2 separate regions of the Homo sapiens genome follow, and region 1 is reported to be linked to region 2. The links are microRNA targets in miRTarBase. Many come from high-throughput screens and were not tested one by one. Region 2 holds a microRNA gene; the other region holds the end of a gene's coding sequence.
Evidence for each region. The annotated mature microRNA hsa-miR-4698 reads UCAAAAUGUAGAGGAAGACCCCA and lies in region 2 at 4,009-4,031, shown strand. An mRNA with a match to its seed (bases 2 to 7 or 8) in the 3' UTR can be bound and repressed. Matches are read on the target gene's strand: a 7mer-m8 pairs with bases 2 to 8, a 7mer-A1 pairs with bases 2 to 7 and ends in A, and an 8mer does both.

Region 1: miRTarBase lists ELMOD2 as a target of hsa-miR-4698. Seed matches in the 3' UTR shown: 7mer-m8 at 995-1,001 and 7mer-m8 at 4,311-4,317.

What each region holds. Positions count from the first base shown.
Region 1 is chr4:140,549,411-140,557,124 of GRCh38, forward strand. It overlaps ELMOD2 (ELMO domain containing 2), which reads left to right. Exons shown (of 9, transcript NM_153702.4): 9 at 820-4,360. The coding sequence ends at 965. Among named protein-coding and RNA genes, the nearest start is that of UCP1, 16 kb to the right of the region's middle.
Region 2 is chr12:47,183,852-47,192,311 of GRCh38, forward strand. It overlaps MIR4698 (microRNA 4698), which reads left to right and starts at 3,961; the gene lies at 3,961-4,040. The region is part of intron 2 of PCED1B (PC-esterase domain containing 1B); the gene reads left to right.

The DNA of each region.
Region 1 (7,714 bases), not on the chromosome of region 2:
ACATTTTGGGGGTTAATTTGGCTACCATAATGAGGATATTGAAAGCCAAAAATATTAAGCCGATTTAGAGTGGATGTATTTTTTTAAAAAAGAGAAGATGCTGATAGTTCATTGAAAAAAAAGTAGAAATAACTCTTAGATTTAGAAATCGAGTAGGAAATAACTTTCCTACACTTTAACCTTATCCAACATTTTTTCGTTACTTGCATTTTTGTGCTTTGGAAGTTTCTCGGGAAACTTTTCTCAAGGTATCTTTTGAAAGTACTACATCTTTTTTTTTTTTTTTTTTTTTTTTTTTTTTGAGATAGGTTCTCAACCAAGCTGGAATGCAGTGGTACAATCACGGCTCACTGAAGCCCTGACCTCCTGGGCTCAAGTGATACCTTTACCTCAGCCTCCCAAGTAGCTGGGACAATAGGCGCATGCCACCATGCCTGGCTAATTTTTGTGTTTGTTGCAGAGATGGGGTTTCACCATGTTGCCCAGGCTGGTCTCTTAAGTCCTGGCCTCAAGCGATCTGCCCACCTAAGTCTCTGAAAGTGCTGAGAGTTCAGGTATGAGTCACTGCTCCCAGGTGAAAGTACTATATCTTTTAAACTTGAGGGACGTTGTTGATTTTTGAGACAAATAGTAAATATACACTAAATCGTTTATTAAGTCTTATTAAGTCCCTCAGGCTTCTAATAGTTTTGAGATTACTTTTGATTATTGTATTCTAATATGGAATTTAAAGGATGGTTATATACTTTGTAAAGATGAGACGGTTTGAATGTGATTTCAACATTGAGGATTAAATGTTTTGTTTTTCTTTAACTGCAGGTTATCTTGTCTATGAATTTGACAAGTTTTGGTTTGAAGAAGAACCAGAAAGCATTATGTATTTCAATTTGTATAGAGAGAAGTTTCATGAAAAGATTAAAGGACTTTTACTGGATTGTAATGTAGCACTTACTTTAAAAGTATAAATCATCCACTGTATCTTCTATTTCTACCACATTTTGCACATTCAACAGAATTTATATGTTGTAATAGGAATTATCTGATCAATTACACTCTTATATATAATTTCCTACAAAAATATTTCAGAAATTCTATTTAAGAAAGCTAGTGGACAATCAGTGTATGTTTACAATTGTTTATACACTGTTCTCCAAAGGTACCTTATCCTTCCAAAGATCCCCTCTGTAGAGTCATGCGAACTACAGTTTGGAACTTGGGACTTAGCCCGTTGGTGTAAAAGTATAAATCAGGTATTTGTATTAAATTGATTAAAATGTGTAAAATCAATTTTCGTTTTTATGTGTTATAGGGTCAAGTTGGTATCTTTTTCAAAGCTCTTTAAGATTTTTTTGGTTTTTAGTTTGGAAATGGCTGTTTTTAATTTTGTCTGATTTTTATTTCTAGGTTAATTAACAGCAAGTGTTTCTTTATGGTTTTCTTTGTTTGCATCTTAATTACATGTCATAACGTTGCTTCATTAGTAGCAAATAGAGCAGAGATACAGCAGAGAGAATAAAGAATTAGGGCCTCCTTTTGGGTTTCTGTGATTATTGAGCATAACTGATGAGAGAATGACAGTATTGGTGACTAGCTTTTTTGTTTTTAAATAACACACTTTAAAATGCCACAGTGTTATTTGAAAGCTTAAAGGCATTTTCTCATCTTCAGTATTTGCTTTTTATCAGTTGTAGAAAAGAACCTTAGTGTTTTCTTCTCTACCTATGTATGCTTATGAAACCGCTCTACCTACATATGAAACTTCTCTACCTATGTATGTTTACGAAAAGAGATGTATTTGCCAAGAAAATCTTGATTATATAAAAGACAAAAAGATTATAAAAGACAGTTTCTGTTTAAGTAAAACTGTCTTTGAAACTTAAGAAAGCTTAAGTTTTAAAAAAATCTCAGTTAAACATCATTGGTTTATTTGACTTACTGTTAACTCTTGCTTCTCTTTGACTCCATGGTGTTTTTAGATAACCATGTATGAACTTTATGTTAATGGTTTGTGGGATACTAAAATAGCTTGAAGATGACTTGATGACTGTGCATTTTATATAGTTTTATTCTCCTAAAATCTCAGGAGGGCAGCAAGTGCTGTCAACGATTATATAGTGATGAGATTTTTATGGGAATGATTTCTTCTTGGTGCGTTTTACACATTTGTACTGATAGCAAAACTAAAGTTTAAAGCAGCAAAGTTTAAGTTCTCCTTAAATCCTACAGAAACCAACCTTTTAAGGACATAATTTCATCTAAAACATGACGATATTTAGCACACCTTTTAATGTGGGTATATATCAAGTGTTTAAGGACTGGCTAGTATGTGATAGAGCAAGACCTGAGACTTTATAAGTATTTGCTCGTGTCTGTTGACAGACCTCTTTCTTTCAAACTTGTTAGAAGAGTGGTAAGACATATCCAATTGGAAAATAAGATGCAGTGTTGTATAGCACATACATTTAAAGTGCTTGCGTTAAAATTAGTTTCTCAATAAGATAAAATTATTTTAAAAATTTGGTTCACTTTATTACAATAGTGGCAATTTAGCTTTTCAGTATTACAGGAATTTAAAAATTGGTTTCTTGTAGGGGACATCTCAACTTTGGGAATATCTTCACTTAATTTTTAAAAAATATTTTCATGCTTTATTGTCCAGCTATACAATATGTCGCAAAATCCTGACAAGTTCATTGTATTAAGGTATTAACTATTACATGGAAAGCAATTCTGTTCATCTTTTGATGTTTGTGTTGAAAATGCTTATCTTTGTGTTTTGATCTTCCAACAGCTGAGAGCTTGAACTGATTTAAACATTTGTCAATATACTTAAGAATGCTTTAAGTAAAGAAGGGGAAAATTTTAAGTAAGTTTTTTCCCTTCTAGGAAGAAAAACTATGATGATGTTAAGAAAATGTCATTATAGAGCTTGCTCAATAATATGTTCTTTAAATCCACCTCCATTTGTACATTATAGGTATCATTCTGTTTTTGCTTAAAATAATCTGCAACCATTTCAGATAGTTTTACAGCAAATTGATCTAAAAGCCACTAATAAATTCTAGGGTTTGAGTCTAGAAGCCAAGCAAACTGTCACCAATGTCAGTTGTAAATTAGAATGCAACATGAGGCTTCAGACTCATGACAATGATATACATGAAAACAAAAATATAATTGTGTCTACCTTCCTACTTTCCCTTTTGACATATGTAGTTGGAATTTTACATAGTCTTAAAATCCATATTTAGAATCTTACCTGTTTCTATAATAATTAGTAAAATGCCAAAGTAGTGATAGAATATTGTGGCATTGAAGTAGCCGAAAAATTGTTAGTTTTAGCATCAAAAAAGTAAATAGATGTTGAAATGAATTTTTGTATGTGCCAGGTTGAAGAGAGTGTGCCAGTGACAGGAAGTAGTCTAAAAAATTAACAGTTATGGTTTTAATAGGATCTGAAAGACAATCTTTAAAGAAATGGGAGAAATTGGGGGTATCAGTGAACCTATACCAACCTCTCTTTGTACATAAATATGGTGATGTAGCTAGATATAAAAATCAGTGTCTTACTGGCACCATTTACAGTTTAGAAAACAATCTTTTTCTTAAAAATGCCCATCTGATTTCTATTTTTAGGAGCTACTTGGATTTGTATGTATTTTTTCTACGTGAAAATATATGTACTCTTCACTTTTGTTCCAGTACTATAATTGCTCATGCACTCTTTCTCCCCTTTGAGAACATTCAGTGAAATACAACTTCATCAAAGATTTGCTCAAAGGAGAAGAATCGCATGAGTGTGAAAAGTAGATGCTCGTAGCCAGAACAGAAAAGGTTACACATGATCATGGCACAGAAGATAGGAGGTTTGACTTGGTGGGCCATAATGTTTATTATCCTTTTTGAAATAACAGGGACCAGCAGCAGTTTTCTCAGGATAAATGCTCTACCCCACTTCTCTATGAACAGGTGTGGGGAGGCTTACTTTCCATTTTCATATTTATACACCTCTCTACAAAAGCAATTTTTAATGAAGGTTAGTGGAATTGTTAAAAATCTGAGAGGAATGATGACTGGAGGTGTTTGGGGTTTTTTTCTGTATTCATTTTTTAATGAGAAAAGTTTTAAATGTAGTACAGGTTAGACCCAACTACTACCTTACTATTATAGGACGATTCTATGTTTCTGTTAAAGTATTCAAGTAGCTTTCTCTGGGGGAAAAAGTACCACTTGGACACTTAAAGGAATTGGGATTTTTGTCTACTTTGGATAAGGCAGTTGACTTCTTAAGTAAAAGCAATAGTGTAAAATGTCATTTTGTTTGGAATGTTAAGTGAGCAAATAAAAAACATGTTGAAATTGTTGTAAGCCTTCCTGTTGATACTTCTTTTTTTCCATATTCCCTCATTTAGTCATTCATGCTCATTAAACATTTTTCTTATTTTTCTTATCGTGTTGCTGTAGGTAAATCAGAATATACAGAAAAAAGTTTTGATTTTCTTGACTTGTTAACTGCTGATTACCTATTTACAGTGTTGAATGAGAAACAAGTGGTTATGAGACTGAAAATTTCCTTTATTTAAAAAGATGCCACCACCTCCACCTGCCCCTTCTTACAAAGAGTAGGAATAATTCATGCTAAACTGCGCTGTTTTATTCTTAACTTTACGTAAAAGTTCTATTATCCATCATAAAGTGGATCTATTTACATGTTAATACATCATTTTTTTACAGCTGCATAGCATTTCTGTGTGCGTGTGTGTGTGTGTATGTGTGTATATCTTACTTTGAAATAAAAATAGGTGGATCTGGTTGGATAAGGCTACGTTAATATGTTAGTACTAACTTTATTAAAGTTAGTGCTAATTATAGGTTTAAATATACGTATATATTCGAAAATAGGCTGGAAATTAAAGACAAAACATCCATCTTAAGGAGTTTGATGAAGAACACAATAAACGTAAAGAAAATAGACAAAGAAATATTAAAGAATTAAAGATAAGTGCTTAAAATGCATAGAATAGAAAACAAGCATATGAGATCAACAGAAATAAGCTTTTGCTTGGAAAGACTAGTATTGATAAACTTGATACTAGTTAAGAATAAAAGAGAAAGCAATAATGTCAATGAAATATGGGACATCACTACAAATTCTACAGATGGTGAAAATTAATTTTTTCAAAAATTTGAAAATTTTAATGAAATACAAAAATTTCTAGAAAAATACAGCTTACCAAAACTGTACAAGGAAGGGGGAAAGTCCTAGCCCTATTAAACTGAATTAGCAATTCAAACCCTTTCCACTAAAAACTGCAGTTCTATATGGCTTGCATCAGTGAGCTGAATGACACACTAAGGAGTAAAATCGCTTTTCACAAACTCTTGCAAATGATAGAGTGTAGACTGCAATTCATGAGACTATCATAACCTTGATGACTAAAACTCAACAAGAACAGTGTGAAAAAAAATTGTATGCCAATGTCACTTTAGATGCAATAATTATAAACAAAATGTTAGCATACTGAATCTGGAAGCTTACTAAATATATTAATGACCTGCATATATAGATATATTGCTTTAATATGTGATCAATTATGGCTCAGTTCAGTTGATCACCAGAATAAAACTAAGTAATTTTTCATATTAACATTTGAAAATCATGATGGTCTTAGATGCAGAAAAAACATTTGATAAAAATTCACCACTTATGTTTAAAAAATAGTAAATGAGAAATAGTGATTAATTTTATAAAGTATATCCTTATAAACTACAACAAATACACTTAACAGTAAAACATTGGAATCAAATTTAGAAAGACTGGAGACCTATGGAGCAGTTTGATGCAGATCATTTCCCTCTAGGGACAGACCATTAATGAGAAAAATAAATGCTTTGACTCTATAGATTGCATTAAATCTGTAAGATAAATGTGAAAACAGTTTTTTCCAATCTGAGAGTATGTTATATACCTATATAGTTTTAAAAAATATTTCAATAGAATTATAGCCTTCATAGTGATACCACACATCTTTTGTTATACTTATTCCCAGGTACTATTTTAAAATGCTTTTTTTTTTTGAGACAGAGTCTTGCTCTGTCACCCAGGCTGGAGTGCAATGGCGCCATCTCGGCTCACTGTAACCTCTGCCTCCTGGGTTCAAGTGATTCTCCTGCCTCAGCCTCCCGAATAACTCGGATTACAGGTGCCCGCCACCATGAGCAGCTAAAATTTTTGTATTTTTAGTAGAGACAGGTTTTCACCATGTTGGCCAGGCTGGTCTCGAACTCCTGACGTCAGGTGATCCACCTGCCTCCGTCTCCCAAAGTGCTGGGATTACAGGCATGAGCCACCACACCCGGCCTAAAATGCTTTTATATAATACATTTTTACAGCTTTATTTTCTAACTTCCTTTTGCTGGTATATAGAAATATAGGTATATAGACTTTTTAATATTGGTTTTATTAGCCACGTTGCCAAACTCATATATGCCAATTCTTTTGGATTTTCCGTGTCTACATTCATATCACTCGTGAGCAGTAACTTTTATTTCTTTCCATCCATTTATTTGTCTTACTGCACTAGCTAGGACTTCTAGTACCATGTTGAATAGATGTGCTGTGCCAGTTTGGATTTATTCAGCAAATATTCAGTCCTCTCCGTTTCCCAATAACGAGTGCATTTCCTTGCTCCTTGATGTTAGGCTTGACCATGTGACTTGCCAAGATCAATGGAATGTTAGTGGACATAAGCAAAGGCTTGAAATAGGTTTGAGCAATTGGGCTTATTCTTGCGCCTCTGCCATCACCATGAAAAAGAGCATGCCTCAGTTTGTCCATGGGTACCAGATGAATCAGAGCCACATGGAGTTGATCAGAACTGGTCAAAAACCCATGGCCTGAATTTAAAGGCCAACTGAATTCAGCTAAGATTAGCACAGCTGCCTAACTAGCCTACTGTTGTGTGAATTCTAAATTTGTAATATTGGTCAAAAGATGCACACATAAAACATACTGGATGATTCCATTTATATGAAGTTTAAAAATAGACAAGCCATATAATTTAGGGATGTATACTTAAATAGTGAATCCATATAAAAACACGCGGAAAACCATTTACCATGAAAGCGAAGTTAAGATGGTCTCAAGTTGTGATCCCGTGGGTGGAGGTGGTTCTGCAGTGCTTGCAATTTTCTGTTTCTTGAGCTCCACTTTGGTTACCTGTTAGTTCACTTTGTAATAATACATTAAAATATTCATTTGCTTTATGCACTTTCATGTATGTGGGTTATATTCCACAATGAAAATTTTCCAATTTTAACAAATGAAGACAAAAAGAAGCAAGAATGATTTGTAGACTTTATATCTTACCTTGTTTCAAGTAACGGCTTGCCTTGTTAAACAAGGAACAGATTGTGGTTATTGCCACTTACTTTGCATGAAAAAGAAAAACTTTGTGGTGATTCTTAGGCCTGTAGGGGCTTTCCCCCGACAGTTGTGTCCCTATCAGATGAGCTCACTTAGGCTGTTATCAAAGCACTTGGTAAATCCCCAGGTACCATCTGATACCAGATTGATTCCCTTATATTTCCTTCTGTATGGGGGCAGAGCCTATGCTTGCTTTATGTACCACTGTGTAGTATGCACAGTGTCTAGAGCATAGCAGATCCTCAAATATCTTCTGATGACTGACATTTCTCTGTACCAGGAATTGGCCAA
Region 2 (8,460 bases):
CAGAATCTCTGATCATGACTCCAAGGAAGACAAGGGCCCCCGCACCAGTTGGTGCTATGCTAGGCAGTGGGGATACTGCATGAACAGAACAGATATGGTTCCTGCTGAGGCAGAGCTGACATTTTATTGAGGAAAATAGACCATTAGGTACTTAAACCAGCAATAGAGAGAATATTTTTCTTTTTCTTCTTTTCTTTTTCTTTTTTGTAGAGAAAGGGTCTCCCTATGTTGCCTAGGCTGGTCTTGAACTCCTGGGCTAAAGCGATTCTCCCACCTTGGCCCTCCCAAAGTGCTGGGATTGCACCGCACCAGGCCAAGAATATTTTCCATTGTAAATGTATAAATTAGTAAATGAAGTTTACCTCAATCCCATGTGTGTTTTAGTTGGTGTGAGCTGTACCTTGCATGCTTACCCTCTGGCTACTTGCAAGAGGCAGGCTGGAGACAGTGGTGTGCTGGTAAACGACCAGCTGGGGAAGGGGAGGTGGTTTGATTTATAGCATTTGCAGATTTCCATGATGCAAATACTCCCGCCACATTGGATTTCAAACCATCCAGGTGATGCCAAGTAGCTTCCTGGAAATTTAACCATCTGCTCTCGGTAACTGCTGCCAGCAGCTCCAGCACACACCACTGGTTCTAGCCCTTCAAAGCAAGTTTAGCTAGCATTCTTCTCATCACAGACTTTTGAGTTTCACAAGCTAAGTAAAAGAATTTTTAAAAATTAGAGAAAGACTTTCTGAAATCTTTTTTCTTCCCTTCCTTCCTTCCTTTTTCCCTTCCCTTTTTCCTTCCTTCTTTTACCAAAGACACTAAAAAAAAAAAAAAATTACAATCTACAAATACCGTCATTTCATAAAAGAAAGGATATTTTAATTTTTTAAAAGTGGGAATAACATAATTTCAGAACAAAGATTAGTCCTTTAAATTTAATGAATCCAGATCTATGAAAATTTTATTACCTTACTTATTTTTCTAATTTTATTATGAACTAGGGAAAGTTTTGTGTATGCATTGGAATGTTTTTGGCTACAGGTGAAAGAAACCTGGCAGAGGTTAAGTAACCTGGAGTTATTTTTCTTACCTAGCAAGAGGTCTAGAGGTGAGTGGTTGCTGGCAGTAGTTCAACTGTGTAGTAATGCTGTCAGACTCCTTCTTTTTCCCTAGCTTTCCTTTCCACCAGCTTTAGCTTGTAAACTTGTTTCCTCATGTTTGTAGCCTCATAGTCACAAGATGTTGCTGCATCTCCAGGTAGATGAAAGGCAGGAGCAAAAGGCCTTTATATGGATTGAACTGTGTCCCCAAAAAAGATATGTTGATATCCTAACCCAGATACCTGCAAATGTGGCCTTATTTGGAATGCAAATGTAATTAGTTAAGATGAGGTCATATTGAACCAGGGTGGGCCCTAATCCAATAACTGATGTCCTTACAAAAAGAAAAAACAGAGACAGACACAAGAAGAGAACGCTATGTGAAGGCAGAGACACACACAGAGGGAAGACAGCCCTGTGAAGAAGGAGGCAGAAGTTGAAGTATTGAAGCTGCAAGCCGAGGAATGCCAAGTATTGCTGGTGTAGGAGAGGAAAATAATTACCTTTTCTGTACCCATCCTAGGTTCTCCAGCTAGGGAAAATTAGACTGCATATTAGAGTGGCCCGGCACGGTGGCTCACACCTGTAATCCCAGCACTTTGGAAGGCTGACGGGGGTGGATCACTTAAGGCCAGCAGTTCGAGACCAGCCTGGCCAACATGTTGAAACCCCATCTCTACTGAAAATACAAAGATTAGCTGGGCTTGGTGGCAGGCACCTGTAATCCCAACTATGCAGGAGGCTGAGGCAGCAGAACTGCTTGAACCTGGGAGGTGGAGGTTGCAGTGAGCTGAAATCGTGGTACTACTACTCCAGCTTGGGCAACAGCAGAGCTAGACTCAGTCTCAAAAAAAAAAAAAGACTGTATATTAGACTGACAAAAGACAGATTAACAAGAGAAAAACAAACAAGTTTATTGAAATATGCATTGCACATACACATAGGAGTATTCAGTAATAAGTAATTCAAAGGAGTGGTTAGAACTTGAACTTAGTCTGGTGCAGTGGCTCACACCTGTAATCCCAGCACTTTGGGAGGCCAAGGTGGGCGGATCACGAGGTCAAGAGTTTGAGACCAGCCTGACCAACATGGTGAAACCCCATCTCTACTAAAAATAACAAAATTAGCCAGATGTGGTGGCACGCCCCTGTAATCCCAGCTACTCAGGAGACTGAGGCAGGAGAACTGCTTGAACCCAGGGGGCAGGGGTTGCAGTGAGCCAAGATCGCGCCCCTGCACTCCAGCCTGGGTGACAGAGTGAGACTCCGTCTAAAAAAAAAGAAAAAAAAAAAGAACTTGAACTTACATAGAATTGAGCAAAGAACAATAATTTTGTAGAGAAGTGGCAAGACAAAGGAAAATGACTTTGAGCTTCTAGGGGCAGCAAATTGTGGGAAGGCAAATATATGGGGAAACTTATGGTAGATGAGGGCTAGTTAATACGTTTTGTTTTTGTAGATTCCTCTGGATGACATCTTGTCTCCAGTGATAAGGTGTTGTCCCTTTATGTTATCCCTTTACTGGTAGGGGGGTAGAGGGGGGCACTTTCACAAGGGGAGCTTATGTTCTGTTTTCAGGCAGATAGGAGGCGGACAGAGATCTCATCCTGGGTCTGCTTTTTCTCAGTTGCCTTCAAGTCAAAATAATCCATATGCCAGAGTGGCATATTGTGGGGTGGCATAATCCAAACCCCTTCATTGGCAAGCATCAGAAGCCAGGAAGAGACAAGAAAAGGTTTTTTCCCCTACAGCTTTCAGAAGGAGCATGGCCCTGCTGACACCTTATTTCAGTCTGAGGGCCTTCAGAATTGTGAGATACTACATTTCTGTTGTAATCTACCCAGTTTGTGATACTTCGTGATGGCAGCCCAAGGAAATTAACACAGCACAAAATCTTGTCTTTACTTAGGATATCTCCAGCTGATTTCTTTTTATATCCTATTGGCCAGAACAAGGTCAAATGCCCAAACCAAGAACAACCAATTGATAAAGGGAAGGAGATTTCCATGACTGGTTAGGCCTATCCTGGAGTCGGGGACCACTCTCCTTGGAAGCAAAGATCTCTCCTTACCACCTGAACACACTGAAAGAAGGGAAAATGGCTCTTGGGGAGGTAGTGGGTAGTGCCTATCACACTTGAAGGTGGACCACTGTGCTGCTCTGTGGACTTTAGAAATGCTGCCCTACTTAACAGTGTTTGAGATTCATCTCAAAACAGATCTTTACCTTCTCCAGAAGCACTCAGGAGTTTAGGTGAAAGATCCAGGTGGATAGCTCCAGGGTAAGAAGTTAGAAATGCTGACACTATGTGAGAGATAGTGTTCATAGGGAGAGACCATGGGATCTTACCTAAAACCAAGAAATGGGTGGTAAATGTAGTGAAAAGGAAGCACCAGGAAATTGGAAATCTCAGGGAGGAGAAAAGGCAGGTGAAATGATCTGGTACTGATGAAAATCCCCCATCTCTACATCAAGGGGATTATTAACTCAGTTTCAAAAATAGAGAACAAGAGAGAAAAAGAGAAACAGGGATGCTGTTTTAACTATAGGCAGCAGTATATAGTAAGACATATTTTTAATCTTTTATCAGTGAAAGTGTAAACAGTTAAATCCAGCACTAAATAATAAATGTGTCAATATTTTAAAATATATTTTTTCATAGCTAAAATTAGAACTAAACATGCTAATGAACTCAGCACCAAGGGCTGGAGGTGATGGAGAGAACATTTCATCTCCCAGGCAACTCCCAACTCTGCAAGTTCTAGAATTCCTAAACATTAAATTTTCTTCATTGAAGACATATTTGGGAACTATAGCTTCATCATAAGGCAGCCAAGTCTTGTGATATATGGGTTAAAGGAAAGTTATGCTTCTCCTGGGGTCTTCCTCTACATTTCCACCTAGACGGGCCTGGGTCAAAATGTAGAGGAAGACCCCAGAAGGAGCAAAACTTTCACCTGCGCCTCTTCCACCTGGGTCTGTCCTTTATCCTACCAGCTCCAAGAACAGGATTGTAATTGGTCACCTGATCTACCTGCATCTTCCTGACTGCAACAAGTTCTTTGCCCTATAGCTGCTTTATTTCCACAGTTTGTCTTACCTGGAAGCACCTCTTCCTTCTTGGAGTCCCTTCTGTTCCCCAGACATACCTCTGTCATGGCACCATAGCATTTTGTGGCTTTTAAAAATTACATGTCTTATCTCCCCTTACTAAGGACTTTGGGGACAGTGATCTTGCCTTAGTTGTCTTTGGGTTCCCAGCATCTAACACCATTGGGGTCTCTTAAATGTTGGATGAATAAATAAATTATTAAAGGCTAATCTCAGGGGGGAATAGAATATGTCATAAATTCCTCAGCTGGAACTCATAGGGATCAATGATGTCCCACACAAAAGCCCTATAGGGACAAGAATTCAGGAAGGGTGTTAGCTGCAAATCTTCCTGGCCTATGGAGAAGCATGGAATATACTGTGAGCCATATATGTCCCTGAAGCTAATCTAATCTATCTCAATGAAATTATATGCTTAGGTATTGTCATCTCAGTTTCTAATGTGTAACTTTTGCTTTCCTTGGAAATTGAAAGGATTTGAGCCATTTCTTAGGTAGTTTCAGGACGATACTGCTTCTCAGAGTTAAGGACTTCCTTTTTTCAATGTGTACCTGAACATCCAGAAGTTAAAAACAAGAGTAGCAGAGTCTTGCAGATGCAAACATAGTACAGAAGTTCTCATCCATCGCCCAAATTGAAACGTGCAATGTAAGCTGTAGCCATCCAGTTCCACTGCAGTGCTGGAGCAGAGGAGCAAGGGAGTTGGGATGAATGTGAAGAACTCAGAGGACCATTGGGAGCATATTCATTTCACTCATTCTCCGTAAAAAACAGGCATGTTGCTGGTAACCTGGACTTTTTCCAACCCTGGCTACACAGTTGCTGGATTTAGGTGCCAGACTCCTGTTGCTTCTTATTGCAAAATGCCCCCACATGGCATTTTGCCCCATTTTCATTTCTGCTTCTGATTAGGTCACTGTGAACTTTCTCTCCATGTTTACTCAAAGTACCAGAAATATGTAGGGACAGCCTCCACTTATCTCGAGATTTCCTGCTGTTCATGATTCAGCTCACTTTGCTGTTCTTTTTCATTTCCTCTATCTTACATTTTGATTGTTTTTTATCTTCTTTTTCTTCAGCTTTATTGCTTGTTTCATTGGTTCTTAGCCCAGTGTCTGAAAGTGACCCTGAGAAGTTGTCTAAGCAGAAAAGCATGCATTGTGTTTTTAGATTGTTCAAGACAGGGCCGCCATTACCCCATTGGATGCCTTTGTGCAAAGTGGAAAAATGTGTCCTTTTCTCTGAGGAGATGCAGCCCTACACTAGGGTGCATGGCTTGGTTAGCAGAAGGCAGACTGATTTCAAAATCCAGTCTATTGTGCATTCTTGTGCCGTGAATGGAGAGGTGCAGCCCTGTTTAGAGAAGAGCCTGTAATCTTGCTTAAATAAGTCACTACAGCAACTATTATCTCACAGTGAAAATGTTCCTCTTTAAAGGCCGCTAAATAAATGAATGACCTTGGACATACATTTATTTCCTCACTTTTCAGTAGTTTACAAGATCCCTGAACACCATTCAAGGCTTATATTAGTGGCTTTCTGCTACCGCTAACATCAAATCCAAAACACCATGGACTTACTTGCAAGGTCTTATTTGCACTTTCAGCATAGCACCATGGACTTATTAGCACACTTTAGTGTTATATTACCATCTCACACTTGTCTTCATTTCAGCAAACAATTAATAAACATGGACTAGGAGCCAAACTCTTGAAGCACAACTTTCGTTTATCACCAGCTTCGCATTTTCACCTCATCTAACCCTACTAACAAAATGCATATCCTTGAAACTTCCAAACAGAAGACTCTGGGGATGTTTGGCAAAACCTCAGCATAACTTCTGCTGCTCCAGGCTTGGGATCCACAGAAGAGCTGCCTCTTGGGTCAGCTCTTCCAGCCCTGCTCGGCTCCTCCCTTGGCCACTCCCAGTCCCACAGACCCTCCTCTATGCACTGTGCTCAGACACCTGCTTGAAGTGCAGAAACTACTTCAGTATCACTTGAGGGAATCTCTAGGTATAAATTCTACACAGAAGAAAAATGTTAATACTCTATTTGCATAGTGTTTTGTTATTTAGGAAATGCTTTCACATGCATTAGTTCGTGTAATCCTGAGTTGGAATAATCAGCCAAAAAGCAAAAATGCATACAATTCAGTTGTCTCTCAGTCTATCCCACCCCGTTCTTCCCATGGTGCTGGTTGGTTCATAAATGGGAGCAAGTGAAAGCCTGCCCCATTGTGGCCCCAGTTCTGGGCTTCAGTTTCCAAAATAGATACAGACCTCACCCAAGTTCCATCTGTTCTAACCCACTTCCTCCTTGTCCTGGTCTCCAACCTTTGGCACCCATGCATTCACTTTGGTCGCCTCTTCCAGGTCTTTCTTCCTCCAGCTCCCTGCAGGTTAAGGATGAAGTGGTTTCTCTCAATTCCCTTTGTACGAGAAACACAGGGTTCTTTATGCCTACACCAGTTTCAGTGGGAAACCCTCTTTATAGCAGCTATGCAAATCCTGCATCTGGGATACCTGTGACTCATTTACACAGAATCTTGATCCTTTCAAACAACAATAGTAACACTAACTCATGCTTACTGGTTTCTGCGTGGCAGGCATGGCACTCTGTGCTCTCTGCATGTTATCTCATACTGTTGCAGATTTAGGTTGAGTACCTGATGCCAGTAAGCCAAACACTGACACATCAGTGCTTAGGAGCACAGAAAGGTTATTCAAATTGGCTACAGCATGAGGGTGCGAGAGGCACCTCTCAAACCCCACCTGTCTTTGAACATAACTGGGGGGCTTTTACGAGTAAGGTAGATATGTGGGAGGTGAGATTCTCTGATGATGAAAGCTGCTTGTGTCCCTCAGCCAATCGAACTTCTGGATGCCATCAAGGAGGTCTCCATGACCTAAGGATCATTGTTCTTTAAAAGAAAAACCAGTTCATTAATCTTGCAGACAGCCCCTGGGGGTCAGGATATGAAGTTAATCACTTATTAATGACTACCCTCTAACGAAATGACTATGTGCAAGCAAACATGCATGGAGGAAGACAAGGACAAAGAAAGAGGAAGAAGTAAAATGAACATCTTACGATTTTTATAATATAGGCTTGGTGACATCACCTTCCCAACAGACACACAGGGCTACTATGAGTATGCCCATTTACAAATGAGGTTGAATTGAAGCAGTTTTTACAAAGGGACACCACTGACCCTAAAGCCCTGAGCTGTCTGTTTCCAGACTTTTTTCACTCCTTTATCTTCTGCCAGCTTTACGACTCCATACATTTAATTCCTCAGAGACCACTATTTTTGTTTAAAATCTCTAAGTTTCTTCCTAATTCTATACCCCAGTGTCAGCATTCAGCAGTTCTATAAGATCTCAAAAGATTATTTCTCCCAAATCCTCACCTTGACCCTCCCCAGGCAAACGTTCACATGTTCACAACCCAATGCATTCACTTTACTCTCATCCTAGGCAAATTGGGGGAAGTCATGTTTCCATTGCAATCCGGAAGAAGAAATACCGCAGGCCTGCCTCTCTCCACCCAGGACTTGGGCATAGTCATCATCCAGCCTTTGCCCTAAAGCAGAGGTTTTCAGCCCAGGTTGCAAAATAGATTGCCCTGGGAACCTTCATAAAGCTGGACACCTGGGCTGCTCACCCTGAGGAATTGAGGCAGAATCGCTGAGGGTGCGGCCTGGACACAAAAGTTTTGGGGTTTTTTTGGTTTTTTTGTTTTGTTGTGTTGTGCTTTTTTTTTTAAGGACCTGGTGATTCTGATGAGAACCACTTGCCTGCCTTTCTCTTTGCCAATCTGAGTCCATTACCATTTTCTTGAGCTAACTCAGACATCATTTTCTTTAGATACTCTATAGGAGCACCTAACATGGCGCTTGCCACAGAAATGATTGACTGTTTTCTCTCTGTACATCCTCATTAACTCCAACTCAATAGAACACCAATTTAATTTGCCTCCTTTGTATAAATGTATTCAATCCACCCCGTATCACTGTAGAATATCTATACATTGTTCTAGAATTACTGTTTTCTTATTTTATGTGGATCTGGCTTGCTTTAACTATTTCAAAAATGGAGGCTACGCTTTTTTTTTTTGTTTTTTTTTTTTTGCCTCTTTCCATAGTGCCAGCAAAGAGCTTCTAAATCACGACAAACAGTAAATGCATGTTGATTATAAGTAAAACCTATTTTTGCTTTCACTTTCCTTTGATATGAAAGTCAATTAAATAGGCTG